2 separate regions of the Homo sapiens genome follow, and region 2 is linked to region 1. The links come from fine-mapping of genetic effects on gene expression. A gene starts in region 1. The other region holds a variant in brackets. All regions are shown on one strand. Distances are from middle to middle.

Region 1 (8,251 bases):
AGAAGACTGCTTGAGCCCACAAGTTTGTGACCAGCCTAAGCAACACAGCGAGACCCTGTCTCTACAAAAAAATTTTAAAAATGAGCCAGGCACAGCGGTATGTGCCTATACTCCCAGCTACTCGGGAGGCTGTTGCAAGAGGATCCCTTGAGCCCAAGAATTCAAGGCTACAGTGAGCTATAATCATGCCACTGCACTCCAACCTGGACAACAGAGGGAGACCCTGTCTCAAAAAAAAAAAAAAAAAATCTAGCTACTTAGCCACATAAATTTATTAAAGCCTCTTTTAATTTTTAAAGTATGTGCGGCCGGGCACAGTGGCTCATGCCTGTAATCCCAGCACTTTGGGAGGGCAAGGTGGGTGGATCACCTGAGGTCAGGAGTTCACGACCAGCCTGACCAACAAGGTGTAACCCCATCACTACTCAAAATAAAAACATTAGCCGGGCGTGATCGTGTGCACCTGTAATCCTAGCTACTTGGGAGGCTGAGGCAGGAGAATTGCTTGAACCTGGGAGGCAGAGGTTGCAGTGAGCCAAGATGGCACCATCACACTCCAGCCTGGGCAACACAGTGAGACTCCATCTCAAAAAAAATAAATGAAGTATGAGAGCTCAGATAGAATTGATTAACCACAATCTAGATGTACAGTTCTAATAAAATAATTTCTGGAGGGCAATGCTGAGATAGGTAAGAAAGTAAAATACTCTTCCCAAGGCGCAGGCACAGTGGCTCACGCCTGTAATCTCAGCGCCTTGAGAGGCTGAGGCAGGAGGACTGCTTGAGCTCAGGAGTTCGAGAGCAGCCTGAGCAACATAGTGAGACCCTGTCTCTTTAAAAAAAGAAAAAAAAAAAAGAATAAGGTTTTGGGTCACAAAGATCTAAGTTTGACTGAAACCTACCTGATACATACATAACACTCCCACACACTAGTCGGGTAACTTTCAGCAACTTTCTTAATACTTCTCAGTCTCTGTCTCCTCCCCTGTAAGAATAGTGCAAATCTCAGAGTTGTAAGAATTAAATACAATCACATATGCAAAGTGCTTAAAACAGCACCTGGTGTGCATGTGTGTGTACATACACATAAGCCACTTCATTACTATGAGGACGAGGGCAATGAGGTTGATAATGATACATGGCTTGATGTATGCTTACTCATTATCAGGCAAGGTAGGTATCAAAAAAGTGTTCAATCTAAGGCCAGGCGGGGTGGCTCATGTCTGTAATCCTAGCACTTTGGGAGGCCAAAGCGGGCGGATCACTTGAGGCCAGGAGTTACAGACCAGCCTCACCAACATGACAAAAACCCATCCCTACTAAAAATACAGAAGTTAGCCAGGTGTGGTGTTGAGCACCTGTAATCCCAGCTACTCCAGAGGCTGAGACAAGATAGCGCCACTGCACTCCAGCCTGGGCGACAGAGTGAGGCTCTGTCTCAAAATACATACATACATACATACATAAAAAATGCTCAATCTCTTCTTAAATTCCTAACATAAACTACTTCTAAAGGCATTTAATAGACAACTGATTCTTCCCAAGACTTACAATATGATTTTGCATATAAAAAGCTGAAAGGAAAGCAAAGAAGGTAGATAGCTATTTTTCTGAAATTCATTAACTAATAAATGGTTGCTGCTTTGCATATCAAAAAACATGCATAATCATGGCTAATCATGATGAAAAGGGAGATTTTAAAAGGAAAATAATCAGCGTTTTAAAACGGCCGGGCGGGCGTGGTGGTCACTCCTGTAATCCCAGCACTTTGGGAGGCGGAGGCAGTTGGATTGCTTGAGCTCAGGGGTTTGAGACCAGCCTGGGCAACATGGCGAAACCTCCTCTCTACAAAAAATACAAAAATTAGCCGGGCGTAGTGGCTTTCGCCTCTAGTCCCAGCTACTCTAGGGGACGAGGTGGGAGGATGGCTTGAGCCCAGGAGGCAGACGTTGCAGTGAGCTGAGATAGTGCCACTGCACTCCAGCCTTGGCGATACGGCCAGACCTTGTCTCAAAAAAATAAATAAATAAGATGCAACTATGTAACAGTATTTAGATTTAAAATAAATACTAAAAAAAAAACATGCAACTAGTGATAATATTTAGCTTCTACTGTGTACATACAAGATACTATGCCTACTTTAATATACTTTAATGAAGGAAAAAACATGCCTCTACCATAACTTAAGCCCACTTTTTCTATGAAATACAGTACTTCTATCTCCCCTTCAAATTAACTAAAGTCAACAAGTACACAAACTGGCATTCGTACGTACTGCGTGCTGATTTCAACTGCTTTATTCTTTATTGTTTTACAGGTTAGTCTTTTTTCATTAACTAAATTGTAGCCTCCTTGCAAAAGAGCAGCCATTTATTTCCTATTCTTCCCACCATGTCCACCACTACAGCCCCTCGCTCCTACCCCCCATCCTAGCACGGCACTTAAATAATAAAAGGTCCTGGCAGCGAAACTCAAAACTGTTTATTTCTGACCTTTAGCAGTAAACAATGTTAGAAAGGCAGATGGAACCACGTTTATCAAAACACAGAACACACGATGTTTACATTTCCTAAAGCGCGTCTTTTAGTTAAAATTAAAGGATGAGAGTTAAAACGAGTTACAAAAGACAGCTGGTGTTTGAAAGAAAAACACTGGAAGTAATAAAAACGGAGTGAAAAGGCTGATGTTGGGATTAAAAGAAAACATTTTTTTAATACAGCTGCAAATCAGTCATTGTTTTCTGAGAGGCTAGGTTCATCTCCAGGATTTTCTTCTAGGAGCTCAACCAATGGCCACCTTTACTGAGTTAACCAGTCTCCAGGCAAGCAGCCCTTGCTGATTGGCTCAAAGATGTCGAGTAGAAAAAGCAGCCAATCCTGCCTTCAAGCCAGAACTGTGCCATGGAGACATTACAACCACTGCATGGCGAGAATGTGTACAAACCTGTCCGTGCCACAAATATCAGATCCTAGTTACAAAGACTGCCGCCGAAAGGAAGAGCCTTTGAAGCCAACACTGACACTGACCTGTCATCTACATTCTATTACTCTAGCTCTCTTTCGGAGGGAAAAAAAAAACTATTTTAACCAAAAGCGCATGAGAGATAAACTGTGCCCCCGCTAAGATGACTCACTCTATTGAGGATGAATTTCCAAACGGACGGCTTAGAGAGAGTCCCGATGAGAGAGGGGCTCTAGAAGGGTCCCATTGAGGGACAAAGTTGCAGATGGGGGCAGGGGAGGCGGGACGAGGGCCAAAGACACACAAATGCCGGGGAGGGGAAAGTCTCCCCGCAGTCTCCAAAATCCGAACGTGTGAGTGGCTGTGTGTCTGGACTTGAACTGAGTAAATAAACGGCTCTGCTAGGACTATGTGCTCAGGAAGGTGGCCTGAAGTTCCCAGAAGGCTCCGCCTGGCAAACACCTAAGGCGCCTGGAGGGGCGCAAGGTCAGGTCCCGGCGGGAACAGATCTGGGAGGAAACCTCGGGGGGTCGAGAGGGGTGTGTCTGGGGCCTGGAGGCCCGCCAGGCACTCGGAGGCCAAGGAAGCGGCCGCGGCCCCCGCCTTCGCCCGGCCTCGGGCTGAGCGCCAGGGCCCGCCTCTCGCCGACGCCTCACTTCCCTTCCGTCCGGGCAGCCGGGCCCGCGGGTCAGATCGGAGGCGGCCCGCGCCGGGCCCCACATTCAGGGCTTGGGGGTTCATTCGCCGCGCCGCCCGCCGCTGCTTCAGGCCCTCCGCTTCGGCTCGGAGCCCCGGGACCCCTAACCTCCAGGGCCCTCACCTTGGACCCGCCTCCCTGCCTCCCACCCGCCGCCTTTACCTGCTTCTGGAGCGGGCAGAGGGCGTCGAAGCCGGTGCCGCGTCGTCGAACGCACAACGCGGCGCCGCAGGTCCGCAGCCCTTTCCCGCCGGCGCCACTGCGCTCTCCCGCGCCGCGCAAGGCTAGCAAGCAGCTGCGGCCGCGGGGGAGACACGGCGAGCGCGCCCGGCGGGGAGACACTGCCGCTCTCCGTCCGGCCGGGGAAGAGCAGCCGCGCAGAAGCCCGCCGCGAGAGGGCGGGTGGGCGGCCGGGTGGGGAGGGGTCTCGAGGCGCCGGCAATGGCTGCCACGTCGCCCAGGTGGATCGCCGCCCACCGCCCCCCCCCAAGCCCGCCGGCTGTCCGCCACGACCTCTGCTTCGTCCCCGAGCTCCGCCTCGGCGCGGCGGCCCGGGGGACTTGAGCCCGCGGGCGCTCCCACCTCTCCCGCTCCCGCTCTCCCGTTGGAGAGCAAGCCCTGCCCGGCCGGTTCGGCTGCTTCCGGTCGCCCACCCCCCAAGTCTCGCCCGAGAGCGGGCCGTGGTCCCCACTTTTCTTATCAGGGGGTCCCTGGAGGAGCAAGCCCTTCTTCGAGTGTCGGGTTCTGCTTGGGGGGAAGGCGGGAGCTGTTTGGCGCTGGGGAACATTGCAACAGGCCCGGAATTTTTGCCAAAATAAGCGGCGCGGTAAACCACAGCTGTTTCTAGCCCTCGGCACTCTCCCGAGCCCCAAAAAACAAAACAAACACAAGGTCGGCCTCGCGAGGTGAGGGGAGAAAGGAAAGCAGAGCTGGGACGAGCCCTGACGCGCGCGGGGTCCAGGCTGCAAGTTGGGAGGGACGGCGAGGCGAGCGACCGGCCTCGGCATTGCCTGACTAGGGCCGTGGCCGCTGCGGCGGGCACGGGAACCCGCCTTCTCGCGCGCGGCCCTCCCGCGGGGGGCTTCCGGGCGCGCGGCCTCGGAGCCCCACGGGGAGACAAAGGGGTAGGCGACTGCCACGGGGTGGAGGGAGGCTGCCCAGCCCCATCGGCCCTGCCAGCGTGCGGTCTGAGCTCGGGGAATGTGTGCGCCTTAGCCGGTGGAACCGCAGCCGCTGGCCTTTGCCCCCAGTTCGAGCTTGAGTTTTCGGATGCCAAGAAAAAGCAAAGACGTGCTCTTCCCTCTTGCGACCGCTGTAGTATGAGTCCGTCCCCAAGCCTGCACCATTTTTTTTCTCTCAACTCTGCTTTCCCTGGTTTATTTGTTCTGGGTTCTGATGTGAAATGTTTAGTGTTTTCAGGGTACGCAAATTTTTCACCTTTGCTTTCTGGTTGGTGGTGGTGGTGGTGATGGTAGTGGTGGTGGTTTTGCCTGTTTTTTACTTCCTCCGTCCCCTCCCTTTGCGGTTACTTTTCATTCCACTTGCAGTGGTTTTTCCCAGAATAGAGAAGCGAAATAACCTCATGACAAAGTGTCCCTTTGCATCGAAGATACATTGTTGGTTGTTATGGCAGTTGCTTTAAACAGAGTGTAAATTTGGGGCAAGTGCAAGTGGTTTTTGTCGTTTAGGTCTAACTGGAACACTTATTCACAATGAGAACGTTGTAGTGCTTTTTCAAGAAACTAGTAATATATAAGGAGAGAACTCAAGAAGATAAATTTTCTGATGAAACCATCCATATAGAAAAATAGGGGAATTTTTCCTTTTGTATGAATTTTGTATTTAGAGGTCTCGAGTCCCAGTGTTAAATCACAGACTTCATGTTCATCCTTAAAAAAAAATCACTATACAAAAACCCCTTAATGCTTTTATTAAATTTCAAAAACAAAAAATTGTAATAACCCAGAATCTCAAGAGATAAATAGCTGTTGCTGAGAAGCTAACATTAACTCTGCCTCTAAACAACCATTATAAGAGACTAAAAACTGTAATATATGCCACTTTAGAAATGAAAGAACCCTAGTAATTATAAACTTGAAAGATGTCGAGGAAATTAATATTTTGTTTTTGAAATATGTTCACCATGATAATAAAAACTAGCATTTAAATTATTTTCCTTTGAACATCTGTTAAGGATTCATCAAATCTTAAGTCAGAACAATAAGAAATAAACTCTTCTTAACATTGGAAAATATATTTCAAGCCACAAAGACAACACCCAAGCTGAATGTTTTTAAAGTTTGTTTACTATGGCAATAAGAAGAACATCAACACCATAAAGTTCTGAAAGTGAGACTGGAATGAAGAACAAAGCAATCTTCACTCAACATTCGCAGTATCAGCCTTCGGTTGTGAATATTTATAAAGATTTCCTCCTTTCTTATTGGTTCAAATTCTAAGCCAATGGGAAAAGTACAACACGTCTTTTAAAGGGTGAAGCATCAATCAGCATTAGATTAGTATCTGGGATAAAGGTTTTGGTTATCATGCTCGTTCTCATTGAAGTTCATGTCCCTTTAAATTTCTTTTTTTTTTGGGGCGGCGGGGGGGCGGTGACTAGAGTTGCTCTGTTGCCCAGGCTGGAGTGCAGTGGCACAGTCTCAGCTCACTTCAACTTAACGCCTCCCGAGTTCAAGTGATTCTCGTGCCTCAGCCCCCCGAATAGCTGGAATTGCAGGCGTCTGCCACCAAACCCAGCCAATTTTTATATTTTTAGTAGAGGAAGGGTTTCTCTGTGTTGTCCAGGCTGGCCTCTAACTCCTGACCTCAGGTGATCCTCCCACCTCGGCCTCTCAAAGTGCTGGAATTAAAGGCGTGAGCCACCGCACCGGGCCGTGTCTCTTTAAATTTCAAAGAAGACATTTAAGAATAGGGCCTGGCACAGTGGCTCACGCCTGTAATCCCAGCACTTTGGGAGGCTGAGGCAGGCGGATGGGATCACGAGATCAGGAAATTGAGACCATCCTGGCCAATACAGTGAAACCCCGTCTCTACTAAAAATACAAAAAGTAGCTGGGCGTGGTGGCATACACCTATGGTCCCACCTACTCGGGAGGCTGAGGTAAGAGAATCGCTTGAACCGGGGAGGCTGAGGTTGCAGTGGGCCGAGATTGCGGCACTGCACTCCAGCCTGGGCAACAGAGCAAGACTCCATCTCAAAAAAAGAATTATTGACTATCTTGTGGGTGCCACACCTGCTCACATTCTCTTCAGTCTTCCAGTTGGTTTTATTACAATTGGTCTTGTTAGAATTATGTGACAATATATCTAAAATGCCAGATAAATCTGAGGAATGGTAAAATGTCTACTACTTAATACATTAAAATGAATCCTGGCATTTTAGATTAAAAACTTACCTTTAAGGAAAGACTAAAGTTTATATTTTGGGCCGGGCGCAGTGGCTCACGCCTGTAATCCCAGCACTTTGGGAGGCCGAGGCAGGCGGATCACGAGGTCAGGTGATGGAGACCATCCTGGCTAACACGGTGAAACCCCGTCTCTACTAAAAATACAAAAAATTAGCTGGGCGTGGTGGCGGGCGCCTGTAGTCCCAGCTACTCGGGAGGCTGAGGCAGGAGAATGGTGTGAATCCGGGAGGCGGAGCTTGCAGTGAGCCAAGATTGTGTCACTGCACTCCAGCCTGGGCGACAGAGCCAGACACCGTCTCAAAAAAAAAAAGAAAAAAAAAAAAAAAAAGTTTATATTTTGGGAAATGTCTTGGATTTTTGTAAAAAAAAAAAAAAAAACTGCCAAGTCGTCAAAAGTAAACCTTTTATATTTACCTAAGTCCAACTTTGGTCTATGTAACAGCTAAATTCTAAACATGATTGTCTGTGTTTATGTTTAGAACATAGGTATGATTTCCTTCCAACCAAAAATATTAATAATCTATGCCACCTTTGTATTCCTATACTTGGATTATGACTTGAAGCATTCCACTTAATTATTCATGTGTTTATAATCTCCCTTACTAAGTCATCAATGCCTTGAAGTTTCCCATTCAGCCTTGTATTCCTCATTGTCAGACTCCCAGCCTTGTGCAATATAAACACTCCATGAATGTTTACTGAGTGAAAGAATAAGTGAGCATCACTCTATGACAAGACATATGGCAAATCAAGAAAATCTGTGTCAGGATTTTTTCCTCTTCTACATAATGGCTAATGACACTGTTTTCATTCCCAACTAAGAATAGTATTGTTGACCAGGCGCAGTGGCTCACACCTGTAATCCCAGCACTTTGGGAGGCCAAGGCGGGCGGATCACGATGTCAGGAGATGGAGACCAGCCTGGCTAACATGCTGAAACCCCGTTTCTACCAAAAATACAAAAATTAGCTGAGTGTGGTGGCTCTTGCCTGTAGTCCCAGCTACTCAGGAGCCTGAGGCAGGAGAATGGCTTGAATCCGGGAGGTGGAGGTTGCAGTGAGCCAAGATCGTGCCATTGCACTCCAGCCTGGGTGACAGAGTGAGACTCCATCTCAAAAAAAAAAAGAATAGTATTGTTGCAAGAACTTTACTAAAAGAAAGTAGG
Region 2 (8,402 bases), 56 kb after region 1:
AGGCCTGTAATCCCAGCACTTTGGGAGACCGAGGTGTGTGGATCACCTGAGGTGAGGAGTTCTAGACTAGCCTGCCCAATATGGCGAAACCCGGTCTCTATTAAAAATACAAAAATTAGCCGGGTATGGTGGCGGGCACCTGTAATCCCAGCTATGCGGGAGGCTGAGGCCGGAGAATCGTTTGAACCCGGGAGGCGGAGGTTGCAGTGAGCTGAGATCATGCCACTGCACTCCAGCCTGGGCAACAAGAGTGAAACTCTGTCTCAAAAAAAAAAAAAGAAAAAAAATGGGCTGGGTGGATCACGAGGTCAAGAGATCGAGACCATCCTGGCCAACATGGTGAAACCCCATCTCTACTAAAAATACAAAAATTAGCTGGGCGTGGTGGCGCACACCTGTTCCCAGCTACTCAGGAGGCTGAGGCAGCATAATCGATTGAACCCGGGAGGCAGAGGTTGCACTCCAGCCTGCTGACAGCGCGAGACTCGGTCTCAAAAAAAAAAAAAAAAATTAGCTGGACGTGGTGGTGTGCACCTGTGGTCCCAGCTACTTGGGAGGCTGAGGTGTGAGGATTGCTTGGGCCTGGGAGGTGGTGGCTGTAGTGAGCTGTGATCACGCCACTGCACTCTAGCCTAGGCAATGGAACAAGACCTTGTCTAAAAAAAAAAGTTTAAAAATACTGTCTTTGTTTATATAGAGAGAGAAATATGAAAAATTCACTGAAGACTGATATTCTTAATACTATCATATTTGTACAGTGTTGTAATTCAATTTAAAGTGACTACAGTTGTGATCATCAGAAAGCATTCCATGCATATGGGAGTAGCACTTGACCTTACACAGCCGACTCACCATTACCAGTTGTTGCAAAGCAGGGACATATCTAGCTTCTGCTGAACATGCAGATATACTAAAAGTGCCATGGGCTTGCACAGTAAGGCTAGAGTTACAGATCTTTGCTTGAGGTCAGTCCTGTGGGGGAAGTAGGAAAGAGGAAGTAGGATTAAGACTATTTGGCAGCAGATAAAGAATCTCTTCTGCAGTTAGGAATTCTTTATTAAACTTGAGGGTATAGACAAGATCAATTCCCCACCTCCAAGCATCAACAAGGACCCTTTGGTATCTGGACACCTTCCATCTCAAAGTGTGATTCATATATCAAATTTTGGTGATATGGACTCAGGCCAGGGTGATGCTATGGCCGTGCTGAATTACTTGACCCAGCTCTTTTTACCTGCAGTTGCTAGAACCCAAGTGCTTTCATGAGGTCAATGAAAGGATCAGATAGGTATTAAACTATTCCTAGCTCTTTTATTAAAATTGCTGTATAACAAAGAGTATATTCTTGCTTTTACTCTGCAGTGAGGTGGGGAAAACAGTGGACTAAAAATCTCACATCTCTTATACAAGAATGTTCATTGCAGCTCTATTCACAATGGCCAAAATCTGGAAATAACCCAAATGTCCATCAACCCGTGAATAGATAAATAGATCGTGGTATATCCTTACAATAAAATAATGCTCAGGAACAAATGCTTACAAATACAACAGCATGGATGAAATCTGAAAACATTATGCTAAGTTTTTGTTTTTGTTTTTTTTGAGACAGAGTCTTGCCCTGTCGCCCAGGCTGGAGTGCAATGGTGTGATCTCAGCTCACTGCAACCTCCATCTCCCAGGTTCAAGTAATTCTCCTGCCTCAGCCTCCCAAGTAGCTGGGATTACGGACGCACACCACCACACCCAGATAATTTTTTTGTAATTTTTAGTAGAGATGGGGTTTCACCATGTTGGCCAGGCTGGTCTCGAATTCCTGACCTCAGGTGATCCCCGTAAATCGGCCTCCCACAGTGCTAGGATTACAGGCCTAAGCCACCAGGCCCGGCCCACATTATTCTAAGTTTTAAAAGCCTTACACACAAGCATATATGTTGTATACTCTTTAAATTTCACTTATCCTGTCGGCTCTCCTTATCCATAGGTTCGTCATTCATGGATTCAACCAACCACAAATACAAAATATTCAGGCCAGGTGAGGTGGCTCATGCCTGTAATCCCAGAACTTTGGGAGGCCTAGGCAGGCAGATCACCTGAGGTCAGGAGTTTCAGACCAGCCTGACCAATGTGGAGAAAACCCGTCTGTACTAAAAATACAAAATTAGCCAGGCGTGGTGGCGCATGCCTGTAATCCCAGGTACTTGGGAGGCTGAGGCAGCAGAATCGCTTGGACCCAGGAGGCAGAGGCTGCAGTGAGCTCAAATCATGCCATAGCACTCCAGCCTGAGCAACAAGAGCGAGACTCCGTCTCAAAAAAAAAAAAATTCAGGAAATAAAAACAAAGCAGTTGGGCATGGTGGCTCAGGCCTGTAACCCCAGCATTTTGGGAGGCTGAAGCATGTGGATTGCTTGACCCCAGGAGTTTTGAGACCAGCCTGGGCAACATGGTGAAAACCCATCTCTACAAAAAATACAAAAAGTAGCCAGTCGTGGTGGCCTGAGCCTGTGGTCCCAGCTACTGGGGAGGCTGAGGTGGTAAGATCACTGGAGCCTGGGAAGTTGAGGCTGCACAGAGCCGTGATCACACCACTGCACTCCAGCCTGGGTGACAGAGCAAGACCCTGTCTCAAAAAATTAAAGTTAAAGTTTAAATGTAAACGTAAAGGCCAGGCGCAGTGGCTCACACCTGTAATCCCAGCACTTTGGGAGGCCTAGGCGGGTGGATCACGAGGTCAGGAGATTGAGACCATCCTGGCTAACACAGTGAAACCCCGTCTCTACTAAAAATACAAAAACTTAGCTGGGCGTGGCGGCGGGCTCCTGTAGTCCCAGCTACTGGGGAGGCTGAGGCAGGAGAATGGCGTGAACCTGGGAGGCGGAGCTTGCAATGAGTCGAGATCACGCCACTGCACTCCAGCCTGGGCGACAGAGCCAGACTCCGTCTCAAAAAAAAATAAAATAAATAAATAAATGTACATTTAAATTTTAAAAAATCTTTAATCTGGCCTGGTGCTTTGGCTCACACCTGTAATCCCAGCACTTTGGGAGGCTGAGGTGGGCGGATCACGGGGTCAGGAGATCGAGACCATCCTGGCTAACACAGTGAAACCCTGTCTCTACTAAAAATACAAAAAATTAGCCGGGAGTGGTGGCACGTGCCTGTAGTCCCAGCTACTCGGGAGGCTGAGGCAGGAGAATTGCTTGAACCCGGGAGGCGGAGGTTGTAGTGAGCTGATATCATGCCACTGCACTCCAGCCTGGGGGACAGAGCGAGACTCCATCTCAAAAAAAAAAAAAATGTGTAATCTTCATTTATTTATTTAGAGAGGGTCTCCTTCTGTCGCCCAGTCTCCCTCTGATGGCCTGCTGGAGTGCAGTGGTGCCGTCTTGGCTCAACACAACCTCTGCCTCTGGGATTCAAGAGATTCTGGTGCCTCAGTCTCCTGAGTAGCTGGGATTACAGGCGTGCACCACCACATCCGGCTAATTTTTGTATTGTTAGTTGAGACAGGGTTTTGCCATGTTGCCCAAGCCAGTGTCCAACTCGTGACCTCAAGTGATCTACCTGCCTCGAACTCCCAAAGTGCTGGGATGACAGGCGTGAGCCACCATGCCAGGCCTAAATATTGTATTTAAAGGAAAATTAAAAAAAAAATACAGCTCAATAGCAAGGCAAAAAAAAGATTGTTTAGAAAAACAATTTTAAAAAATACAAATAAAACTCAATACAGTATAGCAACTATTTAAATAGTATTTGCATTGTATTTGTTATTATAAGTAACCTAAATTTGATTTAAAATCTATGACAGGGGCCAGGCATGGTAGCTCATTCCTGTAATCCCAGCACTTTGGGAGGCCAAGGCACATGGATCACTTGAGGTCAGGAGTTAGAGACCAGCCTGGCTAATATAGCAAAACACCACCTCTACTAAATACAAAAATTAGCTGGGTGTAGTGGCGGGTGCCTGTAATCCCAGTTACTCAGGAGGCTGAGACAGGAGAATTCCTTGAACTCAGGAGGTGGAGGTTGCAGTGAGTCGATTTTGCGCCACTGCACTCCACCCTGGGGACCAAGTGAGACTCCGTCTCCAAAAAAAAAAAAAAAAAAAAAACAGAAAAAAGGATATGGGAGGAGGTACATCTAGTATATGCAAATACTAGGCCTCTTATATAAGGAAGTTGAGCATGCGAGGATATTTCGTGTCCATGCAGCTCTGGGAACCAATCCCCAGCAGATACTGAAGGATGACAGTATGAAGTTTCAGAACAGGCAAAATTAACTTGTTGGATTCATTCACCACTTTCCCATTGCTCATGGCACACTAGTGTCAACCTGAAATAATCAAAAGGATCAGAATCCACCTTAAAGACTTTATTCGAGCAAAAAATTGGAAATAGCCACTTGGGAGACAAAGGCTACAGGAAAATGGGGTCAGTGTTCTAAAGTTAAAAGTTAAGTTTCTTTCT[TTCTA/A]TTTTTCTTTAATTTTAATTTTATTTATTTATTTTTTTTGGAGACAACATCTCGCCCTGTTGCTGAGGCTAGAGTGCAATGGTGCAATCTTTGCTCACTGCAACCGCCGCCTCCCGGCTTCAAGCGATTCTCCTGCCCCAGCCTCAGCTGGGATTACAGGCACGCTCCAACACACCTGGTTAAGACGGGGTTTCACCATGTTGGCCAGGCTGGTCTCGAACTCCTGACTTCAGATGATCCACCTGCCTCGGCCTCCCAAAGTGCTGGGATTACAGACATGAGCCACTGCGCACGGCCTTATTTTATTTTTTGAGACAGAGTCTTGCTCTGTCGCCCAAGCTGGAGTGCAGTGGCACGATTTTGGCTCACCGAAAACTCCACCCCCGCGTTCAAGTGATTCTCCTGCCTCAGCCTCCCAAGTAGCTGGGATTACAGGCGCCTGCTGCCATGCCCCACTAATTTTTTGTATTTTTAGTAGAGATGGGGTTTTCCCATGTTGGCCAGGCTGGTCTCAAACTCCTGATCTCACGTGATCCTCCTGCCTCAGCCTCCCAAAGTGCTGGGATTACAGGCGTGAGCCACCGCGCCTGGCCAGTTTTTAATTTTTTTTAAGAGATGAGATCTTACTATATTGCCCAGGCTGGTGTCAAACTCCCAGGCCCACAAGATCCTCCTGCCTTGGCCTCCCAAAGTACTGAGATTACAAGCATGAGCCACTGCACCCTGCCTTTAAATTCCTTCTTACAAAGACAGAAGAAAACAAGTTTAGTAGGATTATAACATTTTATATACTAGCCTGGTTTATGAATTACAACAATTTAATTAGTTATAGTTTACTTTTTTTCCCATATGGCTTGTTTTCTTTTTTCTTGCTTTTCTTTTTTTTTTTTTTTTTTTTGAGACGGAGTCTCGCTTCGTCGCCCAGGCGGCTGGAGTGCAGTGGCGCGATCTCGACTCCCTGCAAGCTCCGCCTCCCGGGTTCAAGCCATTCTCCTGTCTCAGTCTCCTGAGTAGCTAGGACTACAGGCGCCTGCCACCGCGCCTGGCTAATTTTTTGTATTTTTAGTAGAAACGGGGTTTCACCATGTTAGCCAAGATGGTCTCGATCTCCTGACCTCGTGATCCGCCTGCCTCGGCCTCCCAAAGTGCTGGGATTACAGGCGTGAGCCACTGCGCCCGGCCGCTTTTCTTTTTTTTTTTTTCTTTAGACAAAGTCTCACTCTGTTGCCCAGGCTGGAATGCACTGGTGCAAACTTGGCTCACTCCAACCTCTGTTTCCCAGGTTCAAGCAATTCTCCTGCCTTAACCTCCCAAGTAGCTGGGACCACAGGTGGTCTGCCACCACACCCAGCAAATATTTGTATTTTCAGTAGAGACGGAGTTTCACCGTATTGGCCAGGCTAGTCTGGAACTCTTGGCCTCAAGTGATCCGCCCACCCTGGCCTCCCAAAGTGTTGGGATTACAGGCATGAGCCACCACTCCCAGCCTGTTTTCTTTTCTTTGTGCTAGTTTTCATTACCTTTCCAATTTAAAAGAATGTACTTAACATTCCATCTTAAGAGGATGTGATAGCCATGAAGTCTTTGTGTGAGAAAAGTAAGAGGGAAGTTAATCTATAATGAAGATTAACTGTGAAGAGGGAAGAGGTCTGCCCTGGCCCTTTTAGTCCTTTGCAGTATTTTAAAAACAATGTAGATAAGGAATAAGAATAATCTATAATCAGAGAAACAAAGTTTCTAGTTGCCTAGGTAACAGCTGCCTGTCACATGATTCAGGCCTTATAATCTCTCTCCTTTAAGGCTCAAAATAATTTACAGTTCCAACATGCTAGATTTTAAATTTATTTTCACAGTAGCTACGCTAGCTTTTTTTTTTTTTTTTTTTTTTTTTTTTTTTTTGAAACAGAGCCTCGTTCTGTCTCCCAGGCTGGAATGCAGTGGCGCGATATCGGCTCACTGCAAGCTCCGCCTCCCGGGTTCACGCCATTCTCCTGCCTCAGCCTCCTGAGTAGCTGGGACTACAGGCGCCCGCCACCACGCCCAGCTAATTTTTTTTTTTTTTGTATTTTTAGTAGAGACGGGGTTTCACCGTATTAGCCAGGATGGTCTCGATCTCCTGACCTCGTGATCTGCCTGCCTCGGCCTCCCAAAGTGCTGGGATTACAGGCGTGAGCCACTGTGCCCGGCCTTTTTTTTTATTTTTTTATTTTTTTGTTCTTTGAAGTTAACAAGTACTTTCCTACCTCAGAGCCTTTTGTTCTGCTATTCCCCCAAAATAGGTTATTCTTTCTTCCCCTTTTAATCTGGATTACTACCCCAATTTAGACATCCTGTTTTTCAAGGAATCTTTCTGGTTAGCTCTCTTGCACTTATTTTTTGTCATAATTATACTAATTATAAATAAGTAATAATTGGTAAGTTTACTTGTTAGGGGCCTATTCCACCTTAGACTGTGAATTCCTTGATGTGCAGGACTATTTACATCTATTTAGTGTTCTACTCCCAACCTCTGTCAGCATTTTTGAAAGTATAGTGGGCGGCCGGGCACAGTGGCTCAAGCCTGTAATCCCACCACTTTGGGAGGCCAAGGCAGGTGGATCACCTGATGTCAGGAGTTCGAGACCAGCCTGGCCAAGACTGTGAAACCCCATCTCTACTAAAAATACAAAAATTAGCCAGGTGTGGTGGTGGGGGCCTGTAATCCCAGCTACTCAGGAGGCTGAGGCAGGAGAATTGCTTGAACCCAGGAAGTGGAGGTTGCAGTGAGCCAAGATTGTGCCACTGCACTCTAACCTGGGCGACAGAGCAAGACTCCATCTCAAAAAAAAAAACTAGCCGGGCGTGGTGGCGGGCACCTGTAATCCCAGCTACTTGGCAGGCTGAGGCAGGAGAATCTCTTGAGCCTGAGAGGCAGAGGTTGCAATGAGCTGAGACATTGCCATGGCACTCCAGCCTGGACAACAGAACAAGATTCCATATCAAAAAAAAAAAAAAAAAAAAAAAGAAAAGAAAAAAAAGAAAATATAGTGGGCAACTAATAAATATTTATGGATTAAGCCAACAGTCAAATGAAAGAATCCATGTTTCCATCTTCTCATTTTCCAAAAATTTGGTGATCTTTGGTCATCTTCTCATAGGGCAACAATTTTATAATATTATTTTCCATATAGAGAATGAAAAGATAGTCTCAATTAGCCAGGCGTGGTGGCACACACCTGTAGTCCCAGCTGCGCAGGAGGCTGAGGCAGGGGAATCCCTTGAATCCAGGAGGCAGAGGTTGCAGTGAGTTCACTGCACTCTAGCCTGGGGGACAGAAGGAGACTCTGTGTCCAAAAAAAAAAAAAAGGAAAGAAAGAAAGAAAAAGAAATACATTGCTATGGTCCAGAAACGGGGGACAACTCAAAGGGGTGGGAGGGGGCGCTTACAGGCTATAGGTGAATTTGAACATTTTCTGGTTAACAATTGGTCGAGTTTGACTAAAGATTTGAGATTGATAGAAAGGGAATGTTCAGGGTAAGATAAAGATTGTGGAGACCAAAGTTCTTTGGAAGTCTTATAGTGACTCCCCTTAGAGACAATAGATGACAAATGTTTTCTGTTCAGATCGTAGTTAATCTCTTTAGCATTGGGAGTGTCTGGAGGAAAAAGATATAGCTACGTTAATAGAGATCCTTTACAGATGCAAATTTCCCCCACAAAGAACAGCTTTGCAGGGCCATTTTAAAATACGCCAAAGAAACATGTTTTGGGGTAAAATACTTTGATTCTGGCCAGGCGCGGTGGCTCACGCCTGTAATACCAGCACTTTGGGAGGCTGAGGCAGGCGGATCATGAGATCAACAGATTGAGACCATCCTGGCCAACATGGTGAAACCCCGTCTCTACTAAAAATAAAAAAGTAAGGCCGGGCCTGGTGCGGCGGCTTACGCCTGT

What was found. PIP is the estimated chance that this variant, and not a neighbour inherited with it, causes the effect.
Region 2: its variant is fine-mapped to the expression of N4BP2 in whole blood (INTERVAL, PIP above 0.99).

Annotation. Positions count from the first base shown.
Region 1 is chr4:40,052,600-40,060,850 of GRCh38, reverse strand. N4BP2 (NEDD4 binding protein 2) reads right to left here and starts at 4,001. Exons shown (of 18, transcript NM_018177.6): 1 at 3,821-4,001. It also overlaps the pseudogene LOC344967. RefSeq lists enhancers at 2,940-3,039, 3,140-3,189 and silencers at 3,380-3,729, 3,780-4,239, 4,580-4,789.
Region 2 is chr4:39,996,691-40,005,092 of GRCh38, reverse strand. No RefSeq gene overlaps it. Among named protein-coding and RNA genes, the nearest start is that of PDS5A, 23 kb to the right of the region's middle. RefSeq lists enhancers at 3,573-4,086, 4,087-4,602, 4,603-5,116, 5,754-6,258. The variant TTCTA/A (reference allele first, on the strand shown) is at 4,465.